Linked DNA regions of Homo sapiens: all the other regions are linked to region 4. The links come from fine-mapping of genetic effects on gene expression. A gene starts in region 4. Each other region holds a variant in brackets. All regions are shown on one strand. Distances are between the middles of the regions. Region 1 overlaps CARMIL1 (capping protein regulator and myosin 1 linker 1). Region 2 overlaps CARMIL1 (capping protein regulator and myosin 1 linker 1). Region 3 overlaps CARMIL1 (capping protein regulator and myosin 1 linker 1). Region 4 holds the start of CARMIL1 (capping protein regulator and myosin 1 linker 1).

Region 1 (5,000 bases), 27 kb before region 4:
TCACGCCTGTAATCCCAGCACTTTGGGAGGCCAAGGCAGGTGGATCACAAGGTCAGGAGTTCGAGACCAGCCTGGCCAACAAGGTGAAACCCCATCTCTATGAAAAATACAAAAAATTAACCAGGTGTGGTGGCACGCGCCTGTAGTCCCTGCTACTCGGGAGGCTGAGGCAGGAGAATCACTTGAATCTGGGAGTCAGAGGTTGCAGTAAGCCGAGATCGTGCCACTGCACTCCAGTCTGGGTGACAAAGGGAGACTCCATCTCAAAAAAAAAAAAAAAAAAAAAATGGTTGTACAATAGTCCTTCTCACGGAACCTCACATGAAATTCTATTAATAAGAGCTTTCTCAGGCACAGTGACAAAGGGGTGTTGTTGGAAACTGTGTTGCTCAAAGTTTTATCATACTCCACAGCTGACTACAAACTGATATTTTAAGCTTAATTCCTGCACAGAAAGTTTCAGCTCAGCTATAGACAACAGCAAGCCACCAAAAGAGACAAGAAATAAGGGCTAAGAGAAACTAAAAACACAAAAGCAATGCACTGTTATGTTTGTTAATAAAAGTAGAACTTTATATCCATGTGAAATATGTAGCCTAATCTGCACACAGCCATTTTTTAGCCTAAGCATAACTGGATGGCTACCTTGTTTAAAGTCTTATCAGTGCCATTTGAATGCCAACATCCACAGCCACCTGCCGTAACAACACTTGCTTGCTATAAATAAGTAGATAACATTCTCTCCCAAGAGGTAAAAATTCTGGTTATCTATTAAAAGCAAAACCAATAACCAAAATAACCCATCTTTTAGCTATCCCTCATTTATCAAAAAAGAGGCTTACACTTCAGATTTAGATGCCTGCAGAGTGGTCCCCCAAAAAAGCAGTATCTAAACAAAATAAAGACTAACACGGCACAGAACTACTCTAACAATAGCGATTCTCTTCCCACAATATTTCAGATCCCAGTGGAAGCCTTTCCCCAATGTCTAAATACATCTCTGTTTACTTCCTACATCTAACATTTATTTTTAACAGTGGGAATACTTTTCATTCCATAACCAAGAGAAATTAACAAATAATGTCAGATCTTAACTTTAGCAAAACAAAACCTGGAAATAATTCCAATGTGCTTCTTGTAAATGGATCTCTTTTTTAAAAATAATACTTTAGAATATGTTGCACATCTAATCAATTTATCAACAAACATTTATTGAGTACAAGGTACAAAAAAGGTGGACAAAGATGGAGAACTGCAGATCAGGTCAAGGAATTTCTAATAGAGTAGGAAACACACACAGGTATCCAAACAACAGACATTCAGGAAACACGAATAATAAGTTCCATGACATAATGTAAGTATATAAAGTGCTAACAAATACAGTCTGTTCACTTTTCTAATTTAAAGTTCCAAAAGGCTGATAAATATTTGTAAACACTCTTACAAGCACAGGTATTACTGCCCAGTTTCAAAAGGACCAGGGCGACCGGGCGCGGTGGCTCACAGCTGTAATCCCAGCACTTTGGGAGACCAAGGCAGGCGGATCACCTGAGGTCAGGAGTTCGAGACCAGCCTGGCCAACATGGTGAAAACCTGTCTCTACTAAAAATACAAAAAAATTAGCCAGGCGTGGTGGCAGGCGCCTGTAAGCCAAGCTACTCCAGAGGCTGAGGCAGGAGAATCACTTGAACTGGGGAGGCAGAGGTTGCAGTGAGCCGAGATCGTGCCAGTGCATTCCAGCCCAGGCGACAAGAATGAGACTCGTCAAAAAAAAAAAAAAAAAAAGCCAAGGCACTGCAGGAAACAGGTGGTTAAACACAGAACTGCCATATGATCCAGTAATTCCACTCCTAGGTATATACTCAAAAGAACTGAAAGAAGGAACTCAGATACAGCAATGTTCAGCCATACAGTAATGTTCACAATAGTATTCACAGTAGCCAAAAAATAAAAACAATTCAAAGGTCCATTGAAGTATGAATGACTTTTTTAAAAATTGGTATATGCATACAACAGAATATTATTCAGCATTAAAAAGGAATGAACTTCTAGCACATGCTACAACATAGAGGAAACTTGAAAACATATGCTAAGTCAGCAGTCCCCAACCTTGTTGGCACCAAGGACTGGTTTCCTGGAAGACAACTTTTCAATAAAAGTGGGGGGGAGGAGAGATGGTTTCAGGATGAAAAAGTTCCACCTCAGATCATCGAGCATCAACTAGATTCTCATATGGAGCACACAGCCTACATCTCTTGAATGCACAGTTCACAACAGGGTTCTCGTAACTATGAGAATCTAATGCCACCGCTGATCTGACAGGAGGTAGAACTCAGGCGGTAATGCTCACTTACCTGCCGCTCACCTCCTGCTGTGTGACCCAGGTTCCTAAAAGGTCATGGAACAGTACCTATCCGCAGCCCTGGGGTTGGGGACCCTTCTGCTAAATGACACAAGCCAGACACAAAAGGCCACGTATTATATAATTGATTTATATAAAACATGCCAAATAGGGATATTTTCTGTTTCTATGGAAACAGAAAGTAGATTAGTGATTGTCAGGGGCGATGGGGAGGTGGAATGAGGACTCAGTGTTTGATACAGTTTCTGTTTGGGATGAAAAAGTTCTGGAAATGGATACGTTGCATAACATTGAGAATATACTTCATGCC[G/A]CTGAACATATATTTATTAATAGTGGTTAAAATGGTAAATTTTATGTTATGTATACTTAATGGCAATTATTTTAAAATGAAAAAAAGGATATTTTTAATGTCTGAGGCATATATTGGCTTGATGAACATGTCTTCAGTGGTAGAGACAGGCACAGGCCTCACTTTCCCCACCAGGCAGCCCTTAGGCTGGTAACCTATATATCAGCTACATATTTATAAAGGATGTCAGTTCTCTCCCAGTCCCCATAAGAGAAATGTTGTATTGCTTCATTTTGTGCACCATTAGCTAGCAGGGACCACTTACAAAAAACTTCAGAAGAAGAAATTATCAATAGTTTCCGTGTGATGAAACTCACTAAAATTTAAGGGTCTAAAAGCCATGGATGAGACAACAATTCTTAGAGCCGCAGACCATATTAGAGAAGGAAGAGTGTGAATTAACTGCCTCCTCAACTTGCTATTTGTTTTATCTGCTCAGCAATATCCATGTCAGTGCAATGACAGTATTTACAGGAAAACTTTACAATTCACCTGAAAGACAAACTAAAAAACCCGTGGATTGTCTTACCTTTTGAAACCCAAAGAAAGGAGGACTCTGAAAGGAGAAAACTCTTCATGTATTATTAACTGAAATAGCCATGCCCTTTTCTCCTAAAATTCTAAAAGCTCTACTTCCCACTTACTCTCACAATATTCCTGGAAAAAGGCTTTTTCAGCCCCACACTATTAACTAAAATTGCAGACCTAAGAACCTTTTAAAGTATTAGCACTAACCCTCAGGACTCCTGATTCTCAAGTTCCTAAAATTAGAATGGCTCTTTAAATGCCCGTGTATCTGCCCCCAAAGAGACAAGCAAACAAAGTCCAATGTCTTCTGCCACCAGGACAGCAGGAAGATAATTCTTCTCACAGTTATATTCAGAAATGCCAAAATCAAACCTTGCTAAACATGTTCAGAAAAGCTTCACATATCTCTACTGGAACTAAAAAGTAACAAACCCAGCCAGCAGCCAAAGGGACAGACCTCCTAATTGGATTTTAACCTCATCAAAATGATATCATGTACTCAATCCTAGGACATAGAACCAATCCAAACAGTCACTGAGGGACTCAACTATCCTTACCAAATGCTCTGCCTCATAATAGAAGTTTTAAGTTCTTGACAGTAAAACTGTGACATTCAATAAGCTCTAGCTAATACATCATTTGATATATGAGCAGGGAACATTGTAAATTTCAGAATCTTAGACCAAAGGAAGTATTTTCCTACTTGAATGTTCTATAGCAGGTGTCCCCAACCCCTGGGCTGTGGACCAGTACCAGTCTGTGGCCTGTTAGGAACCAGACCGCACAGCAGGAGGTGAGCGGCAGGTGACCAAACATTACCACCTGAGTTCTGCCTCCTGTCAGATCAGCCAAGGCATTTGATTCTCATAGGAGCGTGAACCCTACTGTGAACTGCACATGCGAGGGAAGCAGGCTGCACACTCCTTATGAGAATCTAATGCCTGATGATCTGAGGTGGAACAGTTTATCCCAAAACCATCCCCCTACCCACTCGGTCTGTGGAAAAATTGTCTTCCACAAAACTACTCCCTGGTACCAAAAAGGTTGGGGACGGCTGTTCTATAGGACATCCTAGTTAAGAGGGCAAGCAATCTATACTTGAACTTACCCAGCTGCAAGGAATTCAATTCCCCATCCTCTATCCCCACCCTCACAATAAGCACATTCTATGAGTGGACAGCTCTGTTAGGAAGATTATTCTGCGTTTCAAGCCAATCCTCAGCACCTGTAATTTTTATCAATTGTCCCAGTTCAGAACCATAGGTAATAAATCTACGTCTTCTTTTCTGTGATGTCCCCTCCCATGTGTGAGCACAGCTCAGCACCTGTGGGGGCAGCAGGCTCATAATATAAACTGCACACAATCAACAAGTGTAAATGATTTAAGGAAACTTTCCCAACCCCATTTCACAAGACTTTTAAAGCAGAGTGATCTGAAATTACCTTAAACATTTATAATGAGGAGACTAATCTTATCTGATTTGTTCTTCTCAAGTCAAACCCAATGATGAAGTTCCCTGGACAAAGGACTTCTCTGACTTTATTCCAGTCCATTCCCAAGTCACCAGCTTCTTCCTTTAAAACTTACGTGTCCTTTACAAACAGATAGTGCTGAATGATTGTTAAATGGAATGTTTTAGTAATCTTCCTAAAAGTAGGTTGGGTGATTATGTGTTGTTCACCCGTTATTTAACATATATTTCTCCAGTTGGCTAATTTGTACAGCGTTAAAGCAGATATGGCAAATTCTAAAACAGAGTC
Region 2 (5,000 bases), 140 kb before region 4:
AACTATTTATGAGACAGATGAGAAGAGAAGTAATCTGACACTGGCTGGGAGAGTGTGATAAAAGCGGGTGAGGAAAGTTGAGGGAAAAGACACAGCCCATTTCAAGACCTTTCACCCAAATGCCACCGTCACAGTTATTCACAGGATCAATTTTTACCTGGTATCATTTTTGTGGCTTGATTTTAGAGTTGGCATGCCCTAGGAAGCCATTAATAAATGACTTCTAAAAGTGTAGGCAACCAGTGCCTTCTCAATGCTACAGGCAGCATGTCAGTCTCATAAAAATGTGGGCAACAGATGATGTCTATCTTTGAATATTCCATATGCTGTGAGCCAAATCACATCTTTTCCCTGAGGAATTTATCTTTTTTTTTTTTTACACCCTCCTAAGGCCTTGGGGGCAAGGAAATGGGACAAAGCACCAGGCAGTAGAAAGGAGAGGGACAGGGATGAAGTATGGCCAGGATGAGTGCGGGGAGGTCAAGTGCAGCTCGGTAGTAGCAAGACTGGCTACATAATCTGTAGGGACATTGTTCAAATATGATTAAGAATTTCAAGACGATAACAATAAGGCATTAACCCAATGCAGGGAAATGATGAACTCGTTTCAAGGTCATATAATTAGGGGAGAAACAGAATTCACATGCTTGGGATGGAAGGCATCCTGCTTGTAGGGTGTCCAGCTCTTTCTGTTTGCACAAGGTGTTTCCAGTTTCAGGGCTGAGAATCCTGCATCCCGGGAAACTGGGACTGTTGGTCAACCTACTAGCTTGAATTTTGGAATCAGAAAGACTTACATTCAGATTCTGGCTCTGCCACTTTCTGGCTGCATTTACCTGTTAATGCCAAAGCCTGTGTCCTTAACCACCACAATATGTCTACATGTTATTACTCAATCGTGCCTCCTTGTGCTCTAGCCCCTGGTGGATGTGTCCTGTGCAACTGTACAGATTGCAAGCCATAAAAGCTGTCCCTAAGCGTTGCTACTCTTTGTCGAGCATTTTCTATGTGCCATGAATAGGTGAATATCTTTGAGGAGAGTGGCACACTTAATCCTCACAACAACTATATTTGATGTCATTATTCCCATTTTTCAAATGAGTAAATTGAGACTCAGTGATGAACTCACTTCAAGGTCATTCAATTAGAGCAGAAATCGTTTATAAAAGCATCAGAGTTCAAAAGGTCCTTAAGAAGAGTATAATTTAAATCTTACAGCTTTGTTAACACCAAAACCAATGTTCTTAACCACCAGGCTATATTTATATGTTACTACTCAATCCTGCCTCCTCGTGCTCTAGCCCCTGGAAGATCAGTTACCGTGAAGGTAGGAAGGGATAGCCCAGGGCAGCCATGACTGGAAGAGATCCACAAAGCTCTCAGCTTGAAGGAGTACCTTTTTCAACATTCCAACAGTTTTCAAAATGCTCTTTTTAAATCCAAGTATGCCCTGGAGAGCTGAACTCTTCTGTCATCAGCACTAGTTAATCTTTGGCTAATACAGCAGTACTCAGGGAATTAAGAGTTTGCAGGCCTTTTGCAAAAGGGCAGGAGATCATTTTGTTGCATGAGACACACAGGGTTGGATAACAGGCATCAGATAATCAAAAGAAGCATGACAGTAATAAAGAGGAATTTGGAAAGGGAGATAAAAGGCACCAGAGATACGCTTGGCTTGCACTGCCATTTGCCTAGGTCTGGGGAGCGGAATACAAGATTAGAACTCATCTTACAGGATGAAATATTCACCTTCTCTGAACTAAGCTCCACAGTGCATCCAGCACCTTCTACTCCAGTTTAGCCCCAGGATATGACCCCTCTTTCAAATACTGCTCCTCCCCCAGAGTGGAAAAGAAAAAGAAATAAGATAATAATGCTGACAACCATGATCATAAGCATGGCTATAGGAAGCCAGTCCCCTATTCTCACCATTTCTCCCTTTTTATTATTTACAAAGCAGCACACACATTTCTCTCTCCCAGGGGTACTGGTATGATCAATCCCCAATCTTTCCAAAAAGCTTAGGTCCACAAAACCTCTGCATAGAGGTAAAATAACAGACAAATCCTAAAACTCGTATGCCAGAAAGGTCTCAACATCACATTGTCAAAGACCTAAAATTCCCTGAGTTTGTATATTATCTGACAGCAGGTCCAGAGAAACTCATCATCTCACAGCTAGTCAGTGGCAGAGCTGGAACTAGAAGCTGCAACTCCTCACTCTCAGTCTATTAACTCTCCACTCTCACCTTACAT[T/A]AAAAGTAAGGTTCAAGGCCAAAAGTCAAAGACAGGAACTTGTAGCCTCTTCAGTATTCATAAAAATATATTTAACTGTGAACTTTCCTTCAAAGGAATTCAGGATCCTTTCACAAACATAGTAATAATTGCCAGTACCTGTTGAGTACACTGTTCTAATAGGTTTGTATATGTTACCACATTTAATCCTCACAGCACCCTATAAGGAAAACACTATTATAATCCCCATTTTAAGATGAAGAAACAGAGGCACATGGAGATTATGTAATTTGTGCAGGTCATCCAGCAAGTAGGTGGCAGTTGGGATTTGAGCCTGGATGGTCTGGTTCCAGAGATGGTGTTCCTAATGACTTATACTGGCTGTCAAAGCTCACCTTTCCAAAAAACAGATTCCTCAATAGTCCACACACATGGAAACATAGATGAGTCATGGAGCTTTAAAGCCAGAAAGAAGCAAACACGTAAAATGACCAGCAGTACAATGAGAGATGTTTGGATATCATAAGGAAAAGGACCAATCCCTACTGGTCTGCGTGTCTCCTTCTGTCTCTTTCTATGCACCGCCATCATCTGTTAGTCTCTGTGTCTCTGAATTTCTCTCTTATCTCTGTTCTGTATCTGTCTACATGATTCTACGTATGTACCTCTCAGTCTATCTGTGCCTCTCCTCACTGGCTCCCCACCCCTCCTCTGACCCCTCTCTCTGCTACTGCTGCCAGTGTCCCCCACACTCCACCCCGTCTTGCTCCATCTCCTTTCCCTCTTCTGGTGCGCTCCTCCCCTGCCTTCATTCTGCCCTCCATTCCCCAGCCCCTTCTCCATGAGAATCACTTGAGAACTTGTTACTTTATTTATTCCTTTTGCAAGACAATAGACACCAATCACAGAAGAAAGAATGCATTCTAGAAAAGTATTTCATTTGTAACACAGTTACAGAAAAACGTGAACAAAGTATGAACCAAAAATAATTAGACACCTTTTGACATCATTATACAATGAGCATATTGGCTATTAAGTGATTACAACGTCCCCTGTGTGAATCTAATTAATAAGTCTTAAAAACTAATCTCAAACATGCACCCAAACAACTGAAATACAACAGCAATCACTAACACAAGGAACCAGCCAGCCATTCCATCCTTTGACAATTGTTGCACTTTAGGGAATAACGCTCCCACTACCAGTGGGGGAGTGGGGGTGGGGGGTGGGGAGAGGAAGAGGGAGGGAGTCAGGTGACCTGCTTGTCTTCTCTTGACTTGCCCTTTCCAGAACAGTCACCATAGGAAGTTTCTAGAGGCCACTGACAGGGTATGAACTAGGGTCAGAATATTTAAAACAAGAGGAGAGCTGGGTGTGGTGGCTCATACCTGTAGTCCCAACTACTCAGGAGGCTGAGGTGGGAGGATCTCTTGAGTCCAAGAGTTCGAGGTTACAGTGAGCTACGATGGTGCCACTGCACCCCAGCCTGGGTGACAGAGCAAGACCCCATCTCTAAAAATAAAAAATGAAATAGAAAAAAAAAGAGTAGAAAAAAGAAACCAGAATGTTCATATGGATTCATCTTTTGAGTAAAGATTAATTTTGTAACTACAGGTAGATACATGAGGATCTAATGATCATTTCTACCTTCACCCCAGCAATAATAAGGTTCACAATCTGTGGCCCTCTGTGTCAACTCCCTTTCTTTAAAAGTATTTTACAGGCAGTGGAAGTACACAGTGTCCTTCAGAAGTTGGATACAGATCAAAATAATTTGTCTGAAAAGAAACACATTCATAAGGGAGCCCAGGCTTTGAAGGAAGACTGATAAGCTACAAAAGCTTTGTGCAGGATGGTCCCCATTTCTGGTGGTCAGTGAAAGCCTCCAGAGACACAGAGAGTTCACAGAAAATGTGGAAGGGGATGGGGGTTGGAATAGAGGAAATCTTCCAAGCTTTCCCAAAACTGTACCCACTTGTGGGTACAACAGGGCAGCAATATTTTAAAGCAAGAATGAAAATTACAAATACTACTGTTACAAGTCAGATTGTGACTCTTGTTTTATCAACACAAACCGAGCCAATTAATGGGGCTACATTCATACTAGAAATCCCAATGAACTCAGTCTCCCAGCCTCTCTGTTTGGCTCCAAAACTGCCCTAGGATTTAAAGCTTCAGAGGATTTATAGTACACACACATGGTTTCTAGCAGAGTCAGGGGCAGTTGCACAGGACACATCCTCTGTGACTTACCAAAAAGGGTTTCCTGATAATGAATACTTCTTCAGTGCCTGGGATGGGAGGCATCCTGCTTGTAGGGTGACCAACTCTTTCTGTTTGTATAAGACGTTTCTAGTTTCAGGGCTGAGAATCCTGCATCCCAGAAAACTGGGACTGTTGGTCAATCTACTAGCTTGAATTTTGGAATCAGAAAGACTTATATTCAGATTCTGGCTCTGCCACTTAAACCTGATAGACTTTTGTTATCTCTAGAGAGTTAGAGATTACAGAATTACAGATGAGCAAACTGAGGTGCCTCATACAAGAGATGCTCAAACAAGAATATTCCTCTGCAGGACTGTTACTGTTGTGTGGATTAAATAAGATACAAATGCAGATAAAGCCCTACCCCAGAACCTAATATGCCTTTGCTAAACACCAGCTCTTCTTATAACTTAACTAATAGCATCTTAGATTTAGTTTCACAAAGTAAGATTAAGTTGCTTCACCTACTGAATTTTTTAATAATTGTTTTTGTCAAAAGAA
Region 3 (5,000 bases), 130 kb before region 4:
GGAAATCTACGTACTCTAACACCTGTGCAAATCCATTTATTTTCACCTAATTCATTCCTTTTCACATTATGTAGAAATGGAATGTTTACATACAGCATGCCAGACACAATCACTTCATTCTTTCCAAAGTCACACTATTGCAAGTTGTAAGGTGTTATCAAAGCATAAAAGAAACAAACATGTCTAATGTTCGCCCACAGGTGAACACAGGGGCCAGTACATATCAGATCCTCTTTTCAAAGCACCCGCTGATACAGAAGTCTGGAATCTCCCATAGTGATTCTGTTAGAACAATGTATTTTAAAGTCAGAGTAATGATAGGTCTTCTTTAATGACAGTACTTTAGCAGTGACACACTAACATGAATGGGCATCTTTAAGTGGTGGCAGGATGGTAATTCTTAGCATGAGGCCAAGGGTGAAGATGAGTGAAGTATCCAGCTCCAGGCCCACAGGGTCCATGAGGATTTTGTGTTAAGAACTCACATGTGGCAGAACTCCTACCCAGGCCCTCAACTATTGGGTGAGCAGACAGCAGGGGACTCACAGGTCTGCATAGGGCATGTGTGCTAAGAGACCTCATCTAGTCATCACTGTCATATTTATGTTTTAAATAAATTCACAAGTAATAGAGTCACAGTTATTCAGGGAATACAGAAAAAATATAACTATAAAGTTCATATTAACCTAATTAATTACTAAAACTTCTGCTTCCCCAACACAGGGCCAGCCAGCCTCTTTTAGAACACATCCATTTGAGAATCACTAGAACCCAATTCTAGCTAAAGATGAGAGAGTTAAGAGGGGTCAGGGGATATGTGTGCCCTTTTCCTTTATTTTACAGATGAGGAAACAGATCAGGAAGAGTTAAATTATTCCTCTGTGCCTATTAGGGCTTATTCTTAGTTTCAAGCAACAGAATTTTAAGAATAAATAAATTTACTTAAAGGAAATTGAGTAGTTCTTGTAATCAAAAGAACAACCAGAACTCAGTAGAGACAGAAACCAAATCAACTCTAAAGATGGGAGAAGCAGGGACTAATAAGGAGTTCCTCTGGCTGCCCTCGTGGAACAAATTGACTCCAATCTTCCACCCTAGCATGTTCCCTCTCAAGATTCAAAGCCTAGGGCGCAAAAGTCCCCTCCTGGGCCTGGCACCAAATAAAGACCACACAGAATTACTCAAAAGTTGAGACAAGTGGCAGCTATGGCCTAGTGACAACGAGCACTGGCTCCAGGGAGTCTGCTAGACCACTCTCTACCAACCATGCAATCTTGGGCAGGTAACTCAGCCTCCCATACCTCTGTCTCCTCACCTGAGATAATACATGCAAAACACAAGTACCTGGCACATGAAGGAGTCCAATAAATGCTAAATGGAAGAGTTGGAACAAGAAATCAGTTTCACTTTTCTTTTACTGTAAGTCTATTGCCGCAGTCCCTCCCCAGCCTACATCATTTCAACTTGTCTGTGTTTCTTGGCCTTACATTCTCATCTTCTCAAGCCAAGGAAACACAAATGTCACTTCTTTCTCCCTCCCTTGTTATATTAGCATTTTCATCAAATGAAAAAAATACATATTTTCTTTCCTTCTCTCAGAACAAAGTTATAAGATAGTTTCCCACTTTGCAGAAAGGTGGTTGCCATATGGCGGCGGGGGGCGGGGGGGGTTGATTTAGATTTAACACCATTACATATATAATCAGAGAAATAGTCTTCATTAAATTCAGAGAATAAAAAATAAGGAAAGAAGGAGAATATAAGATTTGGGGTAATCCTATCAAGAAATTAAGGTAGGTATATAATTTACAGCGGTGCTTCTCAAACTGAGGGCTACAACCCATTGGTGGGTAGTTAAATCAATTCATCAGAGTTTAATGAGCATATTAATATGACAGACTAAACCAAAGTGAAAAGGAAAAGAAAGCCAAGGCACAGCAAGTAGAAAACATGAGCATTATTTCACAAAACTTGTTTGAGTGATGTCAGTATATACATGGTACTCGCATGCAAATGTGTGTGTGTGTGCACAATTCTCGAAATCAATATAAAATGCATGTTTTACTCTGGATCCAGGTTTTGAAAGTTTGATAAATACTAGCATACGGTACCATATGCACCTGTAAGCGGGATCCACCATGAGGCTATAGATGAGGATGAGGCAGCTGGTAAGATGGCAAGAACATGAGCTTTAGAGTCAGACACACTTCAGGCGAAATCTCAGCTTTGCCATTTTGTGGACTGAGAGGTATTAGGCATGTTGCTTGAAATCTCCAGGCCTCAGCTTTTTCACTTCTAAATTGGAGACAATCTGTATCCTAGTTTAAGTACTAGAGATAACCTATCAAGTGCTGAGCATACAGTAGATACTAATATAAAAGGAGCCATAATAATTGTCCTCAAACTTATAGAATATAGCTCTGAAAATGATCCACAGGGACAAAGGTGTGAGACCTACAGAGACAGTGTGCAAACTTGCTAGTTAGAAACAGAGCTGAGCCCAGAAGCCCAGTCTCCTGGTCTCAGCCTTATTCGTAACACATCATCTTCAGCATGTGGCTTGAGTCAGAGCAAGGGGGAGAATACTCCCATGGTAACTATAACCTATTTAAGAATTAGAAGAGAATTTCCATTTCTATATGGTGATGGGATAAACTTTG[A/G]TATAAAGGAAGAATGGGCTTTGAATCCAGACCAATTTAGATCAAATTACCAACTCCTCCATTTATCAACTACCTAACCTCCTAAATTTTATTTTTCTTACCTGTAGAATCAGTATGAAATAGACTCTGTTGGACAGTTGTGGGGATTAAAGGGGTAACATGTAAAAAGCCTACAAGTACTGTGCCTAGCACTCTCCTAGATATGCTGAACTTCATTCATAGGTGAGGCTAATACCTGGCTCAAAATCTTTTTTTTTTTTTTTCTATTTTATGTAGAGACAGGGTCTCACTACATTGCCCAGGCCGGTCTTAACTCCTGGGATCAAATGATCCTCCCACCTCACACTTTCTATACAGCCCCAACTTCTCTCATCAGGGGACAATACAGCATCCAATCATGCAGAGCACTAGGCTTTGAAACTGTACCACCCCAGTTTGAATTCTGGTCCCACCACTTACAAGCACGAATGATTTTGAGAAAGACCTCTGTGTGCCTTACTTTCCTCATCTGTAAAATATGGGATCACAATATATACCTCACTGGAGGTTGTCATAAGGATTAAAGAAGGTAATACACACAAGGTGCTTAGAAAAGTGTTGGCGATAGTCAGTGTAAATCATTGCATCCCTAAAGATATGATGATCAGGAAGCCTTTGAATTCTTCGGCCTTCTTGTTCACTCTGTCATATCCTGGGCCATGTTAGTTACTGCTTGAGATTATACCATGTCAAACGATTTCTAATTCAGGCATCCCACTCTCTGCCCGAAATCTTTTTTTTTTTTTTTTTTTTTTATTTTAAGAGACAGGCTTTTACTGTCACCCGGGCTGGAGTGCAGTGGTGCAATCTCGGCTCACTGCAGCCTTGACCTCCCAGGCTCAGGTGATCCTCCTGCCTCAGCTTTTCAAGTAGCTACTACAGGCACAAGCCACCACACCCAGGTAATTTTTAAACTTTTTGTAGAGATGACGTCTATGTTGCCCAGGCTGGTCTCAAACTCCTCAGCTCAAGTGATCCTCCCACCTGGGCCTCACAAAGTGTTTGGATTATAGTCATGCACCACCACACCTGGCCCTCACAGTGTGATCCACGGGCCAGAGAGGCTGGCGTGACAGGAACTTGTTAGAAATGCAGAATCTGAGGCCTCAGCCCAGACCTGCTGAATCAGAATCTGCGTTTTTACTAAAATCCCCAGGTGATTCACATTAGCATTACAGTTGGAGAAGCACTCATAGCTAGTTCCCTTATTCAGGTACTACCACTACCCTGTTTATTGCCCCCTGACACTGCCAGGTCATTCTCCATCAGCACTAACCTATCTTCATCCAACTGAACCTCCACTGAAATCATTCCTCCATGTGTTAATGTCCTTAGCCTTCGTGTTCCTTGTCCTTTTATTACTCCCACAGAGTAAAACTTCAATCTTGGCTGAACTTACCTAGCCGCCTATTCCATGCTTGCAGTGGTAGCTGCCAAGCACAGCTGGAGAACTGATCTTACCCAGCAACCTGATTCCGTTCCCTTCATCTGGGAAGATGACTTTCCCTCCTACTTCACAGAGAAAACAGAAATTATCAGAATGGTATCACTTACCATTCCACTCCAAACCTCCACACCTGCCTGCATCTGCAGCTGTACCCACCCCCTCCTCTTCCTCTCCTTCTGAAGTGCTGGAGATAAATGCCCGTCCCTTCGTGTGGGCTCTGGGTTACATCCCACCTGTCTTTGCAGGAACCTTAAGCAACTAAATATCCTTTCTCTTCCATCTCTAAATATCCAAACATAGAGATGTTTAGACCTAGAGCTATATGCCTGGATCCTACACACCTCTTGCAGGTCCCCTCTAACTGTCTCTACCCTTTGAGCCCAACTTCTCAAAAAAGGTACCCATACTCAGTGTCTTCATATTCCTGCCTCCAATTCACTCATCTAGTGTTCAAAATTGGCTTCTGTCCCCACAACTCCACTTAAATTTCTCCTGCTTGAGGTGCCAATCTTGATTGCTAAATCCAACCTCACGGCTGCTAAATCCATGCACTTCCTAACCAGATTTCTCCTTAGCACTGGGCATGGCCCTTCATGCTTGATGTTCTCGTTTCCATACATTTTCAACTGGCCTCTGTGGTTATTCCTAGTCACATGTCCAATCCCCATTCCCTGCTACCATTCATTCTCTCTCATGACTTCAGTCCATCCCAGATGACTCCCAACTTTATGCACAGCCCAGATCTCCCCTCCGATCATCAGATCTATTGATCTAACTTCACTTGTATGTACTCCAACCCTTAAATTCAGCATGTCAACAACTAAACCATGATCTTTCTTTCAAAATCTGCCCTT
Region 4 (5,402 bases):
CCCGAGTAGCTGGGATTACAGCCACGTGCCCCCACGCCCAGCTAATTTTTGTATTTTTAGTAGAGACCGGGTTTCTTCATGTTGGTCAGGCTGGTCTCCAACTCCCGACCTCAGGTGATCCACCTGCCTCGGCCTCCCAAAGTGCTAGGATTACAGGGGTGAGCCACCACGCTCAGCCAAGTCTGTAACACTTTTTAAATATCTTGAGGGAATCTTAAGGGAATATATAGAGGTTTTCATGTGGTCGGTCGCCATTTTGAATTGATCAGAGCAGAACTCTTGTGAGCACTTGAATTTAGAGGAAAGCAGGTGCAGGTATTTATTCTATCCCAGCCTAACTTGACCACTGAAAGGCCCAGAAAAATCATATCGGGCATAATATGTCACTCTCTTGAAAGAGATAGGCAATACTTAATAAAAACAAAAATTCCATTTCAAGATAAAGGTCAAACTCAACTTTTAAAATATACAAACTATTCCTTTTGAGAACCATGAATAGAAACCCAGACACCTTATTTCCACTCTACCCTTCACTCTTTCTCTTGGGCCTAAGTAATTACCTACACTTTCCATTTCCAGACTTAAGGACAACTCCTTATATAAAGTAAAAATCTGCCACCCACTTTAGCCATCCTTATCCCCTGACCAGCCAGGCAAGCCCTGCCCTACACTCATTCTCAGGACCTCTGGAGGCGTCTTCAGAGCCTCTGGCGTTTGCTTGGGGTGTTGGAAAGGTCGCAGCCTCCCAGAACCGGATGTGTCACTCACTCCAGCAAAAGATGCAGACTCCACAGGGTTGGGGAGAGAGAAGAGGATCTGCTGGGATCATGATGAGAGGTGCGTGTGTGTGTGTGTGTGTGTGTGTGTGTGTGTGCGCGCGCGCACACGCGCGTGCGTCTGTGAATAATTTCATACTGTAAATTCTGGTAAAAGATCAGGTTTGTCTGTAATTCAGCAGAAGTAGGGGCTTCCATACAAACCTAGCAACAGCCTCTCTACATCAAGTTTTACCTGCTGAGTTAACAGTCACCAACGGAAGGGCATACACAAATTCCTCCAAAGTATTATTAGCTAAAAGAAACAACAGAGGGGCAAATTCCACACATGGAGATCAACGGGTGCTCAGAACTTCCTCTTGTTGTCAGCGCCGATTAAACATCATCTTTGTGAGCTGTAGGCTGTGTAGTGTGCCAAGAATGGTACAGGAGGGAATATAGGTCACTAGGGCTCAAAACACATCTGTACACAGACGCACATACCTTGTTACAGTATAACATGCTACACACATATACATGCTTAAACGCTAGGTTTTCAGAACACTCTCCCATCCTATTTCAGCTCTGCCATTTTAACCCTCCAGATAATTAAGTTAAACCCCAAGACTTAACCAGCCCCGCCCCCACCACCACCAAAAAAAAAAAAACCTCAAGGTACTCAAACAATGGGTCACCTTGCACAGCGTAACACACACGGGTTCCCTAAGAGATCCCCTATAGGGAGAATCGGTAGGTTAATCATTATTAAAATAAGGCTTTTATCATTAACCCTCTATTTCCTGGCCTGAGTCTGCGTCAGCCCTGTAACCCTTTCGCTCCCAGCTGGCTACACCAAGCCACACCTTGCCAAGCCCAGTCATTTTACCAGACTAGCGCCCACTCCCCCAAGTCTGCGTGTCAGAAGATCACCTCCCGCGGGGCATTTTCAGGAAAGCGCCTGACACGTGCCGGAGACGACCTACTGTGCGCTCGCCACCTGTCCTTCCAATAGGCTTTCCCGGACTTTCCCGAGTTTGGGGCAGTGGGCTGGGAGCTGTAAAGGGCTCCCCTCGCTTGCAGAACTCCCAAGTCTAAGATGGCCCGCCCCCTTCTTTCGCCAACCTGGATCCCCGCTTCCGGGCAAGAGGAGGTGCCCAGGGCTCACAGTCGAGACCCTCCTCCCACCCACCTCCCGAGGACTCCCGATTCCTCCCCGAAGCCTTCCCTCTCTGCACTTGGCTCTACAGGCGGTCGGATGGGAACAAACTTCCCGGCACCCCCAGTGACCCTGCCCAACACCACTCTGCCCTAAGGGGCGCCAAGACTTCTCGAGACCTGCGGGAAAGCAGAGGTGGGAAGGGAGAGAGAGGTGAGGAGTACGCAGAGGAAGGTGGAAAACCAACAACCGCGTGAATCTTACCTATCAACTCCCTGGGAACGTCAGAGCTCTCCTCGGTCATGGTTGCCCTGTAGGTGTGGGGGTTATTGCAGGTCCAACTCTGATTTATGGCCCCCTGCCCTTCCCCGAACTCCTCAATTTTTTTAGAGAGGCAGATGCAGCTTGCAAATGGAAGTGGGCAAGAAAAGGGGGGGCGGAGACAGAATTTTGCCGCGCGCCCCCCGCCCCACCAAAAAAAAAAAAAAGAGTTGCAAATGCGAGGCGGATTTGCTGCTGCTGCTACATGACGCCTCCTCGCAGTTCCCGGCGGCTGAATAAGGAGCGGACCGGATTACAAGCGGGCGCGGGGCGCGGGGCGGCTGTGGCGCCTGCTCCTCCTCCCGGCTCGCTGGTCCCCGGCGGGGCTTGGGCCGGCGTAGCTCCCGCCCAGCCTCCGCGCCGCACCTACAGCCCTAGGTGAAAGCGGAAGGCGTGGGAGAGGGCGGGGAGAGCGGCGCGGGGCGGGGGGAGTAGGTTTTCCTCGCGCTCCTGCCGGGCTCCGGCTGGGCGGGGGCAGCTCCGGCCCTCCTCCTTCTCCTCCTTCTCCTTCTCCTCTTCCTCCTGCGTTTCCTCCTCACCTCGCGAGAGCCGGCCTCCGCACCGGTGCGAGGCCGGCCTCCGGTGCCCGAGCGCTGGGTCCCCGGCGTAGGTCGCACCCCCAGGAGAGACGCTGTGCGGTGCTGCGGTGGCGGCGGCGGGCACCGCGCCCCTCCTCGCAGCCTCCCTCCCAAACCGCAAAAGCCCTGCGTCTGGAGAGGGGGCGAGCGGGCTCGCGAGAGAGCCCGGGAGCCATCTGCTGGCTGCGAGGGAGGAGAGCCGGGTGAGCCGGGCTTTCCATTTCCTTGTCCCCACTCCGGGCGGGCCAGGGGACCCAGAAGACGGGAGACGGCAGATTCTGCAGACCCGTCTACACGGAAGCTGGTTCTTTTTGGGACCCTCTTACGCACTTTTTCTTTTTCAACCCTCCCGGTGACATGTCACTTCATCATCGCTATTCTTCATTTCTGATGAGCTAGACGAAACCTGTGAACACTAATCATACCGTGAGAAGACACTTGTGTGTGTGCGTTCAGCTGGTGCTCTGCAGCCGCAGTTCGCTATCTCAGACATTCCCGTTGAGAGCGCCTTGGAAAATGCCTTTCACTCGGAAAAGTCTCTTTTATCCTCGGGGCATATTCAGGAAGCTGAGCTTTAATCACTGGAGCCTATGTAAGCCTGCGGATAGGTCTGATCCTACCTGGGCCCAAACTCCCTATGACTTCCCTGAGCTCCATCCCCAGAGGTTCAACTTCAGGGCCAAGAATACTTTGTGCCTCAATCGCTGCTTTTTAGCCTAGGGCTGGGAATGTCCCAGACTGTCTAATCAGGTTCTGCTTTTAAAGGACAGAAAAGGAGGAAAGGAAAGGGAATCCATGCACTTGGCAATCTAATTTTAAACACTGCTGTTGACCTTGGACCCCTTAGAATCATCTTCAGCCCCACAGCCAGGCCTTACCACTAAGGATTTGCCAACCTGGCCCCTTCCCACCCTCCTTAACCTCTCCCACTCCCTTCTCTATTACAACCAGACTCACTGTTTGCTTCCTCCTTCCTCTTAAGGTTATCTGATTCTTATCTATGTTTTCAAACCCATCCCAATGGTCTACCTTCTTTGTGAATATTTTCCAGGGATTTTCAGATTACTGTGATCCCTAAGCCTCTACAATATGTATTGCCTGAAACACTTTTCTAAACCCAACCATATGGTGTCGTGTTTCATTGCTTGTGTATTTGTCTGGTTTTACTATCTAACTCTTGCATTGTCCCCTGAGTTTGGATTTTTTCTGCCCAACTAGACTGTAGGTGAGTTGAAAGTGGGAATTTATCTTAGACTTTTGAACTTCTTCAACAGCCTAGTTCAAAATAGGTGTTCAATAAACATTTGTTAACTGATTTTAGAGCTTTGGACCTCAGGCCTCCAACCATTTGTTTCAAAAGTGGGCAATTTCTTTAAGCTAGACATTTCCTTAATGCATTAAATATATTTTTTCTGCAGTAAATGGAAATTAACATCTCAAACTGTCTTTCATTCAACCTGGTGTGTTAAAGAGGACTTTTCTGGCACATACCAATGAAGTTTCAGAAATGCCCTGAAGTTTCCAAACCATGTGATAACTTGTGAAAATAAGAACAAAAGTTTGTCTTTTTTTTTTTTTTCCTGTGGCCTGGGTGATGGAAAGAATAAAGGGAAGGCTGTATGGCAGTTCTGTAATTCAGTACTCTTTGGCTTCTTTTAAAGGAAGCTGGGGTTTCAATAAAAGAATCATTTTCACTGCAACAGGATCCTGATTGGCTCCTGCATCTCTGAAGAAGTGAATTCAAATGAATCTCCTATCACAACACTGAAAAATGACTGACTGATTTTGGAAATCAAAGTCATTTACTTCTCGGTTGCAAAACTCAAATATGTTTCAGAATAGCAAGCAGAGAACTCCAAGGAGCACTGTTTATAAAGCTGCAAACCCAACAAGCAGTAAACATCCCTAGCACCGTAAAACCATGGTGCCAGCTTGGAGAATGCAGTTTGCATTCTGAAATGTGTGCTTGTTTACTGAATCGGCCTGCCCCTTCTACTGCTACTGCTGCAAAAACAAACTTTTCTCACTCCATCACTCCAACTTCCTCAAATTCATCCCTGTTTATATAGTCTTGAATACACGAGTGATCAAACCACTACATGAAACTGATTGTGTTACATATGTGATTAGCCATAGCTTCATCTAAGTAAGTATTTACATGTGGCTGTGTTTAAGCCATACAACTAGTACTGATAATCTGAAAGCTGTTAGTAAGATAAAACTTTTTCAGAGAATCCCTACTGCATTTGAATCTGTAAAATGTTTAACATTTAACATATAGTGAGTGGCAACATTATTTTGAAAAGGAAGATGGAGAAGAGTGTAATTTGAAAAGCATGGCAAGGCCAGGTGCAGTGGCTCACATTTGTAATTCCAAATGCTTTGGGATGCCGAAGTGGGTGGATTGCTTGAGCCCAGGAGTTTGGGACAGACCAGACTGAGCAACATAGTGAAACCCCATCTCTTTTGAAACATACAGTGAGTGGCAACATTATTTTGAAAACTTATCCATGGATTTTTATTTTTAATTCTAAGCATATATTCACATCTATATAGTACATTTTGTAATGCATTATGGTCAGAAAACACTCT

Evidence for each region. PIP is the estimated chance that this variant, and not a neighbour inherited with it, causes the effect.
Region 1: its variant is the best candidate, but not a certain one, in a credible set for the expression of CARMIL1 in tibial artery (GTEx, PIP 0.54).
Region 2: its variant is the best candidate, but not a certain one, in a credible set for the expression of CARMIL1 in esophagus muscle (GTEx, PIP 0.88).
Region 3: its variant is the best candidate, but not a certain one, in a credible set for the expression of CARMIL1 in whole blood (Lepik 2017, PIP 0.60).

The regions. Positions count from the first base shown.
Region 1 is chr6:25,303,665-25,308,664 of GRCh38, reverse strand. The region is part of intron 2 of CARMIL1 (capping protein regulator and myosin 1 linker 1); the gene reads right to left. Among named protein-coding and RNA genes, the nearest start is that of CARMIL1, 27 kb to the right of the region's middle. The variant G/A (reference allele first, on the strand shown) is at 2,673.
Region 2 is chr6:25,413,928-25,418,927 of GRCh38, reverse strand. The region is part of intron 2 of CARMIL1 (capping protein regulator and myosin 1 linker 1); the gene reads right to left. All of the region lies in intron 1 of LOC124901281 (a long non-coding RNA gene), which reads left to right. Among named protein-coding and RNA genes, the nearest start is that of CARMIL1, 140 kb to the right of the region's middle. The variant T/A (reference allele first, on the strand shown) is at 2,256.
Region 3 is chr6:25,406,747-25,411,746 of GRCh38, reverse strand. The region is part of intron 2 of CARMIL1 (capping protein regulator and myosin 1 linker 1); the gene reads right to left. All of the region lies in intron 1 of LOC124901281 (a long non-coding RNA gene), which reads left to right. Among named protein-coding and RNA genes, the nearest start is that of CARMIL1, 130 kb to the right of the region's middle. The variant A/G (reference allele first, on the strand shown) is at 2,661.
Region 4 is chr6:25,276,609-25,282,010 of GRCh38, reverse strand. It overlaps CARMIL1 (capping protein regulator and myosin 1 linker 1), which reads right to left and starts at 2,637. Exons shown (of 37, transcript NM_017640.6): 1 at 2,176-2,637. The coding sequence starts at 2,215. RefSeq lists a silencer at 2,440-2,909.